2 separate regions of the Homo sapiens genome follow, and region 1 is linked to region 2. The links come from fine-mapping of genetic effects on gene expression. A gene starts in region 2. The other region holds a variant in brackets. All regions are shown on one strand. Distances are between the middles of the regions. Region 1 overlaps GXYLT2 (glucoside xylosyltransferase 2). Region 2 holds the start of GXYLT2 (glucoside xylosyltransferase 2).

Region 1 (5,359 bases), 85 kb after region 2:
GTGAGGAGTTCAAGACCAGCCTGGGCAACATAGTAAGACCCTGTCTCTGAAAAAACAAATTAAAAAAAAGAAAATAAATGAAAAAAAGAAAGTATGCATTTGCTAGGGAGAGTCCTGGAGAATTCTAACTCTGAAATTCGCAGAGTTGGCTGAGCGTGGTGGCTCACATCTGTAATCCCAGCACTTTGGGAGGCCGAGGTGGGTGGATCACCTGAGGTCGGGAGTTCGAGACCAGCCTGACCAACATGGAGAAATCCCCCCGTCTCTACTAAAAATACAAAATTAGCTGGGCGTTGTGGCGCATGCCTGTAATCCCAGCTACTCGGGTGGCTGAGGCAGGAGAATCACTTGAACCTGGGAAGCAGAGGTTGCAGTGAGCCAAGATCATGCCATTGCACTCCAGCCTGGGCAACAAGAGTGAAACTCCATCTCAAAAAAAGAAAAAAGCAATTTCTAGAGTTGACTTCTGTACAGGGAAAGTGTTTAGCATGCATCCAAGCTTTTCCTTCTGCATTTCCTGCTATTTGGTTTTCAAAGGCCAGGTGATTTAATTATGCAGAAAATTTGTTCTGTGCTTAATGATATCCTCACATTTAAATATTCAAACACTGACTCCAGGGGCAAACTCATTCAGGAGTACGAGCAGAAGTTAAATAAGTACACAGCAGCCGTGTGTCTATCAGAGCCACTCTTGGGTTTCTTTTGTGATCTGTCACCCCTGGTTTGGAGTTGAGCAGTTGTGGTTCTTGAGTTGCAACTCATCTTGTTTGTTTTCTGGGGGATCAGAAAGAGGGCTGAACAACTTTGTTTCATAAATGATTCTGCTTAGTACACTCCATGATTTTCCTCAGTTGGGCCTGAAAATATAGTTTTCATTCAGGCATTTCAATCAGAAAAATGACTAACCCTGACCCAAAATGTGAGTAAATGTAAAGAGACTCCATCATAAAAGATGTATTTCCCCATTCTCTACAATGCTGTGAACCATTGTGTAGTGGGTCAGAGCTTGGCTTTGGGCCTGGACAGACAGGTTCAAATCCCAATTTTGCCGCTTTCTGGTGATTTGCCATTAACTGTGCCCTTACCTTGCTGGGCCTCAGTTTTTTCATCAGTCAAGTGTAGATAATAAGATTATCTACCTCAAACAAGTGTTATGAAAATTCAACAAAATGATAGTCTTTATGCTTTTAGTACAGAGCCTGACATACAGTTTGTGCAATAATTAGAAGTTGTTTTGGCCAGGTGCGGTGGCTCACACCTGTAATCCCAGCACTTTGGGAGGCTGAGGCAGGTGGATCACTTGAGGTCGGGAGTTCGAGAACAGCGTGGCCAAAATGGCGAAACCCTGTCTCTACTAAAAACATGAAAATTAGCCGGGCGTGGTGGCGCATGCCTGTAATCCCAGCTACTTGGGAGGCTGAGGTAGGAGAATGGCTTGAAACCGGGAGGCAGAGGTTACAGCAAGCCAGGATCGTGCCACTGCACTCCAGCCTGGGCGACAGAGTGACACTCCATCTAAAAAAAAAAAAAAAAAGATATAAGGAAGTTGTTTTGATGATAACAATTTCACACTTTCTCTAGCTTTTTCACATTTCTCTCTCTCTTCTTGCTTATAAACAGTTTCTCTCTATATACCTTTTTCTTTTTCTCCCTTCATCTGTCTCTGAAAATATTCTCTCTCTTTCTCTCTATTTCTCTCTCTGTTTCAGGTGCTCATAGACATCCTAACCTGTGTGTTTGTGTGTACGTGTTTGTGTGAAAGGGCAGTGCAGCCTCCCCACAAGAAGGCATCTATCATATAGACATTTTTGCAGTAATTCTCTTGACAGTCACTTATGAAGCATCTATTTTATGCAGGAACAATTCTAGTTTCTAGGAATTTGGAAGGTAATAAGATGAACAAAGCCCTAGTCTTTAAGAAGCATATATTCTGAGCTGGGCGCAGTGGGTCACACCTCCCAGCACTTTGGGAGACCGAGGCAGGTGGATCACCTGAGGTCATGAGTTCGAGACCAGCCTGGCCAACATGGTGAAACCCCATCTCTACTAAAAATACAGAAATCAGCCGGGCGTGGTGGCAGGCACCTGTAATCCCAGCTACTCAGGAGGCTGAGGCAGGAGAATTTCTTGAACCCAGGAAGTGGAAGTTGCAGTGAGCCAAGATCGCACCACTGCAGTCCAGCCTGGGTGACAGAGCAAGACTCTGTCTCGGAAAAAAAAAAAAAAAAAAAGAAGCATATATTCTGGTGGGGGAAGCCAGACAATACTGATTGAGAAAAAGAAAGAAAAATTCAGCCTGGGCGACATAGTGAGATGCGTCTCTACAAAAATTAAAAAAAAAAAAAAAAAATTAGCCTGGTGGCACATGCAGGTAGTCCCAGCTACTGGGTGGGGAGGGGTTGGGGCTGGGGTGGGAAGATCTCTTGAGCTTAGGAGGCCAAGGCTACAGT[G/A]AGCTAGGATGGCCCCACTGTACTCCAGCCAGAGCAAGACTTTGCCTCTTTAGGAAAAAAAATAGTAACAACTGGGCGTCATGGCAAGTGCCTGTGGTCCCAGCTAATTGTGAGGCTGAGATGGAGGATCACTTGAGCCCAGGAGTTCAAGGCTGCAGTGAGCCGTGATTGCCCCTCTGTACTCCAGCCTGGGTGACACAGCAAGACCCTATCTCAAAAGAAAAAAAAATCCTCTGAGATAGTGAAAGGTGAAAGGAGTTCAAAAGGTGTAAAAAGAGTGGGCTGATGGGTCCAAAGTCCTGGGCTGGAGAGGAGTGTTCTACCAGCTGGGGGAGGGGCACCAGGGAGGCTGCTTGTAAGTCCTAGACTTATCAGATGGAGGCAGCCCAGGGGAAATCTGGGGAAAATCCCGTGAAACAGAAGGAATGACCAGGGGAAAGTCCCGGAGGCAGGAATGAATTTGGTGTGCTGGAAAGACAGGAATGGCCAGATAAGAGGAGAGAGGAGGAACTGAGAGGGGAGAGTTTCCAGGTCACCTTGAACCTTTAGAACAAGGGAGGAGTTGGAATCTCATTCTAATGGCAGTGGAAAGCCCCTTCGGGAAAGTGATAGGCTCTGATTTATGATTTAGAAATATCACCTTGGTAATGTGGTGGAAGGGATGCAAGAGTGAAAACACAAAGGCTATTTATTTGTGAGACTAATCGCAGCCACCTGGGTGAGCAATGGGGCCAGCATGGGCTTGCGTGGTGGCAGGAAATGGGAAGAAGTCGCCATATTTGGGATATGCTGTTGAGATAGAGTTTACAGGACTTGCTGATGAATTGGATGAGGGTTGTGGGGGGAAAGAGAGGAATTGAGGGTGATTCCAAGGTTTTGACCTATCCTGTTCCCATTACTGGAGCTACAGTGGTGAAAAGGACAGATTCAGGACTGGCTTCAAGGGGTTTATCAATGATTTAAATTTCATGATTAAAGAAAAAGTATCCCAAACCAACCTGGTCTGGGAGAGAACCTTCTTGCATTACATAATGCATAATCTCCTTCCGAGAAGAAACTGGCATCTCTGATAAACCTGTGTAAGCAGTATTTCTGATTAATTTTAAAGGATTAACATTTGTTCTAGGAAACCAGACACCCACCTCTCCTGTTAGGCAAGAGTGTACTGATCTTTAACCATTCTTCTTTCATTTCTCACTAGTCTTTCCATATAAAATGTCCTGACCAAGAGTGGATCTTTGACTTGATCTACTACCAGACTTTTCCCTTTCAACAAGATTGTAATAAAACTTTGATACATGTGCGTAACTAAGTGGTCTGAAAGATTTATTTTGGGTTATACTGCTCATAGACGTATTCCATGAAGAAAACAAAAGAATTTTAAAAAATGGCAGTGATGATCTCAAAAGCCCAATATTAAGAGGGAAATAAACAACCACTAATATTTGGTACCTGAATTATTAAAATCTGGTTTATTGCCAATAAATTTTACTAGTAATTGTTAAACCCTGAACTTCACGAGATTACCATAGACATACCCTAAAGTTTCTTCATTAAGGTCAAAAAAGATGAAGAATTCATTGTTTTGTTGTAGTAGATTTCAAGTGAGTATCTTGAGCCTTCCTTCTACTCAGCGTAAACATGCTATGATATATGGACTTTCCTGTCCTTAGAGACATGCATCATTTTTAGATTGTAAGACCCTTAAGGACCCAAATTTTTTTTTAATTTTATTACTATTCTTTTTTAATGAGATGGGGTCTTGCCATGTTGCTCAGGCTGGTCTCAAACTCCTGGGCTCAAGTGGTCCTCCCACCTCGGCCTCTCAAAGTGCTGGGGTTACAGGTGTAAGCCACCATGCCTAGCCTTTTTCTTTTTAAAGAGGTAAAGAAACTGAGGTTCGGAGAGTTTAAATGATTACCTGGGGTTGCACAGCTGAGACAGGATTTTAAGTTAGATCCTCAAAGGTCTTTTCACTTGTCCAAACCTGTGCCTGTGGGCTTATCGTAATTCCTGTGTCATTTCTTAGTAAAAATGATCTGCATTTAAAATGGCATTTCCGTTACTAAATAAACTTTTTTTTTGTCATCTTTCAGTTTCCCTTTCAAGACAATCTCTTTCAATCCATGTATTACCCCCTTCAGCTGAAGTTTTTGGAGACTGTGCACACTTTATGTGGACGAATCCCGCAAGTTTTTCTGAAGCAAATTGAGAAAACAATGAAAAGGGCTTATGAGAAACACGTCATCATCCATGTTGGCCCCAACCAGATGCACTGAATATTTTGTCTTGTTGCAAGTCAATTAGGTGTCTTGTGACCAAGGAAATACTAATCTCTAAGCTGCCTGGGTCTTTTTGTGTGAATATTTAATGGTGCTCCATGACTGTTGAGTTTTAAAAACCTCGTTAAATTTTGCCAAATCAGTTGCCCCCAAAAGGGAATATGCTTTTCCTTATTTTTTTTTCTAAAATGCTATTTATCTCTAAGGAAAAAAAAAAAAGACTATTACTCATTTAACATTGTTTAAGCAGGTTGAGCTAGCTGTGAAAATAGCTTTTGTGAGCCTTCTAATTCCTAAACGTCTGAGACCATTTCAGTGGCACCTGAGGTGTTATATTGATCTAGCATTCCTGAGACTCTTTCTATGCAACTGACTCCCCCACACCCGTGTTATAAAAGTAATACACACTTTTGAAACAGAGAGACACACTTGTAGAGCATATGGGTCAAGGGCTCAACATCAAGATTAGATTAGCCATAATCCTATTGACCAGTGGAAAAGATTGTTTCCATTTTAAAGCAGTTCCTTACAACCTTTTTTCTCTACTTTTGCATTTTCCACTCTAACACACATCTAAAACAGGTAATCTCAGTAAAAGCTGGCCTTTTTGCTGAGATTTTTATGTGG
Region 2 (5,376 bases):
TCTCTCTGTTCCCTCTCTTTTGAAAGTGTAAAATAAAATCAAAAATAGACAACTTTTTCTTAAGCCATTCCAGTGTAGAAAACAAAACCTTATGAAAACAGGAATGTCAATTATGTAATCATTATTCTAATTAGTTAAATAGAAGTCCTTATGTATGTGTTACAAGAATTTCCCCCATAACATCCTTTATGATTTAAGTTCGATGACAGTTTGCGCTTGGTGGTAAAGGATTTTCTCCATGGCCTGAATTAAGACCATTAGAAAACACCAGGCCATGGGAGCAGTAACCATCTGATGACTGTTCTTGTGCATCTGGTGTCCAGGGACATGGGCGACGTGCCTCATCTGTGTTAGAGGGTGGAACAGATGTGTTTGGCACTGCATGGGATCTGGTGTTCCTCTTCTCCTGGATTCACATCCCCACCCAAGGCCCTCTTAAGTGTTCTGCCCTAGCCTGGTTCAAGGAGGTCATCCAACTGACTTTATCAAGTGGAATTGGGATATATTTGATATACATTTGCCTAACAACACGGAAAAGGGTTTTCCTCCTTCTTTCCCTGCAAGGGACATCCTACTGCTTTGAACGTCCAAGTATGCCTAGTCATCTTTTAAAATGTAAACGTTTTCAGAGAAATGAGGTTTGCTTTCCTTGTATGTGCTTATTATCTTGACTACCTGAATTGCGAGGGATTTTTATATATTCATATGTTCCAAAGTCAGCAACTCTCCTGTTGGTTCATTATTGAATGTGCTGTAAATGAAGTCTTTTGCAACTAAAATGAGATTTGACCACATCCAAAGAAAAAAAAATTAGAGGATGTAGTTTTCCACCAATCAGAGCAATCCAAACAAATCCAAAAGTTGAGTTTGGACTCAGTGGAAGGAGGCAGATTAGGCTTTTTTTTTTGGCTTCAGTGAGGTTCAAGAAAACTGAGTCCTCTCTTTGGTCCATGATTCTTTGGTGTTTGAGGCTAAAACCCTGGCTACTAATCAAGTGTTACTTTGACTCACTCTGCCTTTGTTTATCCTTGTTGCATCTGTCCTCCTAGAGGTAGAAGGGAGGGGGCAAGACAGAGTTGGGAATGCCTGCTTCTCTGGGCCACATGTCAACAGAGTGGTGGCCATTTCTAAACCTGAAAGATCTAAACATCATGCCTTAGCCTGGCCTAGTGTTTCTCAACAGGGTCCCACATTGGGCCAGGATAGTTTTCGTTGTTGGTATGTCCTGAGCATTGCAGGAGGTTTTGCATATGCTAGTAGAACCTGTCAGCCTTCCCACAATTCCAGATGCTTCCTGGTAGGATGGAACCTTCTCCCTCATCTTTGAGAACTAATGGATTCTTTGCGCTTACTCACCTACAACATGTCCCCCACACTGAACTTGCACCCTGCCATTTCCTAGATGTCTGCTTGGCAAGAGCTTCCAAATTACTAAATATTCTCATCTCTAGAACTTTTAATACAATGGGTTCTCAAGGAATTAAAATAAAATGCTAATATGAGAATAATTCAGAATATAACTAAATTTTAGATTATTTATAAAGCAACATGGAATCTTGTAGAAACTCAGGGACGGGCTGGGCGCGGTGGCTCATGCCTGTAATCCCAGCACTTTGGAAGAACGAGACGGGCGGATCACTTGAGGTCAGGTGTTCAAGACCAGCCTGGCCAACGTGGTGAAACCCCGTCTCTACTAAATATACAAAAATCAGCCGGGTGTGGTGGCGCAGCCTGTAATCCCAGCTACTTGGGAGGCTGAGGCAGGAGAATGGCTTGAACCCGGGAGGCGGAGGCTGCGGTGAGTTAAGATTGCACCATTGCACTCCTGCCTGGGCTACAGAGTGATCCAAAAAAAAAAAAAAAAAAAAAACTGAAAAACTCAGGGACGTTGTTATAACTTAACTAGTGTTCTTTGTTCTGTGGTGTGCTGAAAAGAGAGTTAATGGAGTCCTGGCTGTCAGTTCACCGTGAGTCATAAGAGGATGTGTCCTAATGTTTCAGATTTGTAACTGGGGATCCCCTGGAAGAATCGTCTGGAAATTACGACCTTCATCTGGCGATTGCAGCTGTTAAAGTCTCCAAAGAAGCCATTCTTACATTGTGTTGTGAAATTATTACTCTATCTCAAATCTGTGCCAGAAAGAAAATAAAATGTGTGTTTATGTGTATATTATAAGCTATGTTTTATTGAACTAATCATTACAGAACTTTTATTGGGCACCGACTGTGAGCCAGGCACTGTGCTAGTTTCTTTGAAGGCATTATTTAATTTAATGCTCACAAAACGCCTCTGTAGTGAGCAGTATTGTCATTCCCATTTTGCACGTAAGGAAGTTAAGGCTTAAGAAAGTTGTGCAGCTTCCTCAGGATCACCAAGCCAGTTAAGCACAGTGTCAGATTTCAAATCCAAACTTTGAAATTCATTCTCTAATTTCTTCAGACTACATGGATCGGTTCGGTCCAGTCTAGCTGTCCCAAGTTCTACTTTGGTGTTTTGAGTCTGAAACCCCAACTACTAATCACGTGTTACTTTTACTCGCTTTGCCTTATTTTGCATGTGTCCTTGTTGAATATGTCCTCCTCCAGGAAAAAGGGAGGTGGCAAGACAGAGGCGGCAATAGGGGTTTATTCAACAGATATTTATTGGGCACCACCACCCGCAGATCCCTGCACTGGGCAAACAGGACAGAGATGTTCCTGCCTGAAAGGATGTGTGGATAAGTGCACAAATGTGTGGATAGATGGATAAAATAAATAAGGAGGAAGCACATGGAATACATCAACAAATAAGTGAATCATGGTATGAGAGAATCAGCGGGAACAGTGGATGGCATGGGTGTGTGAGTGAATGGGGAAGTAAACGAACGAACGAACGAATGAATGAATGAAGTGGTTTTGAGTCTGAGCTACCAGAAGCCCGAGAGCCTGGCTGCGGGCGGGCGGAGGGGCGGCTACTCCACACAGTACGGTAGGCGCAGGCTGCTCCTCCTGTAACCCAGCTCTCACCGCCTCCCCCTCCTCTCCTCTCTCTCCTCCTCCTTCGCCGTCGCCGCCGCCGCCGGCCGCCCGCCGGCCGCCACGACCCCAGTCCCCGGCGGGCGGGCGGAGGAGGCGACCGCCGCGCGCTGCTGCACTCATCCTGCCGCCGCCGCGATGCGCAGAGGGGCCGAGCCGCCTGGGGGCCGCCGCCGCCGCCGCGCCGCACCATGAAGCTCCGCAGCAAGGCGGCGGCGCTGCTCTTGCTCGCGCTGGCCGCGCTGCTGCTGGCGCTGCTGTCCCTGCGCGCTGGCCGCGCTGAGCCCCCAGCGCTGCCCGCGCGCCCCGCGTCCGCCCCGCAGCGCCACCCCGCGCCTGTCCCCGCGCGCTGGCCGGGGCCGGGCGCCCTCCCCGGGGCCAGCCCGGGAGTTCGGAGGCGCCGGCCCCCGCGTCCGCGCCCCCGAGCGGGCCGCCGGGGCGCTGCGAGACTGGAGAAGTTGGCGAGGTGAGTCGTGGCAACCCCAGAATCCCATCTGCGGACCCGTGTCTCGCTCCCTACACCCGTGCCAAGTCCAAGGGAGGCTTTGCGCTGGAGAGACAGATTTCCAAGTTTCACCCACGGGCTGCCCACTTCTGTTTCTTAACCCGATAGAAAAGAAGACCCACCTTGGTGGAGTCCCCCTAACAGCTCGGTGTTGATAATCACGTACATTTTTTGAAGTGTCAAGGAAAGTGGTTTCGTACATTACATTTTTTAACTGTCAAGGCAAGGCGTATTTTTGCACTCTTGCAAACATGCACCCTTTGTTTAATTTGTCAAAAGCCATCACGGTGCAAGAATGTTTTATCTAATTCTCATGTTTCACTGGAGAATTTTACCGAAACCTTAGATATGGTTGAGTTGGAAAAGTTAGATGTTTACCAAGGACTGGCAGCCTCTCATTTAACCTCGAGTACCCCCATGCTTAGAACAGAAGGGACACTTGACCTAAGTTTATTAAAAAGAAGTTTTCTCCTTGAAAGGACTGATGCGTGGCACAGAAAAGACAGAGTGGGGGTTTCCAGATCCTCATTCTGTTTCAGGCTCGAGTGTGGTCAAAGGGTCCTCCTACAAGAAAAACAACTTAACCTTCGACCTTCTGTTTGATACTCTCTTTCCCTACACAAAGCCTAACACGCGGAGGCTTTTCATCAGAGAGCTTTATTTTTGGCCTCAGGGTTGCTGGAACGCCCCGCAGGTTAGGGATTTGAGTTCATTTCCTTTGTTGTGGAGGGCTTTTCAACAATCCCCTTGTCTTGTAGCGAGTCTGTTTCATCTGCCCTTTCAAAACTGTTGTTTCTAACTGCCATTGCAACGTCCTTGTTTGCTGGGCTCCTTAATTTCAACCTGAAAGGAGTTGAAAAATTATTTTTGACCATAATGACTAAATCTCTTTGGTGCCTTTACTGTAACTAAAAGACACGAAACCTCAAGAAGTAGCTGTGTCAGCCTTTGTTTCCCTTCTGTCTCAGTACAAATGGGTACTGACAAGTTTTAGGGGGAAAAAACCCCAACAATCTGTCGCTTTAAAGTACTTATAACACTTTACAGCCCTTTCTGGATGTATACAGTCTTTAAGGATATCTTTGTTAGGAAATTAATAGGATTTCCCCTCTTCTATACTGGAGTTTCTTGTAAGAGATTAATTAGGGTTTAACTGCAAGTTTAATATGATTGCTAAGTTTGATGGGACAACTGGTAAGATAATAATAACTGTCATCCTTAACATCGCTAACCTATTGCCAGGGACAGTGCTAACCGCAGTACATACAAATAGTCACAGTTAACACTTAACATATACAACTACATAATCCACACCATAACCTTCCCCCCCACCGCTGTTTTTCTTTTGGTTTTTTTTTTGTTTTTTTTTTTTTTTTGTGACAAAGTCTTCCTCTGTCGCCCAGGCTGGAGTGCCGTGCTGCGATCTCTGCTCACTGCAACCGCTGCCTCCCGGGTTCAGGCCTCCCAGATTCAAGTGATTCTTGTGCCTCAGCCTGCCAGGTAGCTGGCAAACAGGCGTGTGCCACCATGCCCAGCTGATTTTTGTATTTTTAGTAGAGAGACGGGGTTTCACCATATTGGCCAGGAACTCCTGAGCCCAGTGATCCATCTGCCTCAGCCTTTCCCAAAGTGCTAGGATTACAGGCGTGAGCCACCGCGCCGGGCCCAACCATAACCCTTTGACAGTGGTTCTCAAAGTGTGGACTTCAGACCAGTGGCACAGGCATCATCTGGGAACTTGTTAGAAATGCAGATTCCTGGGCCCCACCCCAACCCTACAGAATCAGAAGCTTTGGGGGGTCAGCAACCGTGTTTTAACACGTCCCTCCCATTGTTTCTCATGCACAACAAAGTTT

Evidence for each region.
Region 1: its variant is fine-mapped to the expression of GXYLT2 in lung (TOPMed, PIP 0.98).

The regions. Positions count from the first base shown.
Region 1 is chr3:72,970,431-72,975,789 of GRCh38, forward strand. GXYLT2 (glucoside xylosyltransferase 2) reads left to right here. Exons shown (of 7, transcript NM_001080393.2): 7 at 4,547-5,359. The coding sequence ends at 4,729. Among named protein-coding and RNA genes, the nearest start is that of PPP4R2, 24 kb to the right of the region's middle. RefSeq lists a silencer at 663-792. The variant G/A (reference allele first, on the strand shown) is at 2,451.
Region 2 is chr3:72,885,028-72,890,403 of GRCh38, forward strand. GXYLT2 (glucoside xylosyltransferase 2) reads left to right here and starts at 3,019. Exons shown (of 7, transcript NM_001080393.2): 1 at 3,019-3,481. The coding sequence starts at 3,207. RefSeq lists silencers at 3,059-3,288, 3,389-3,518.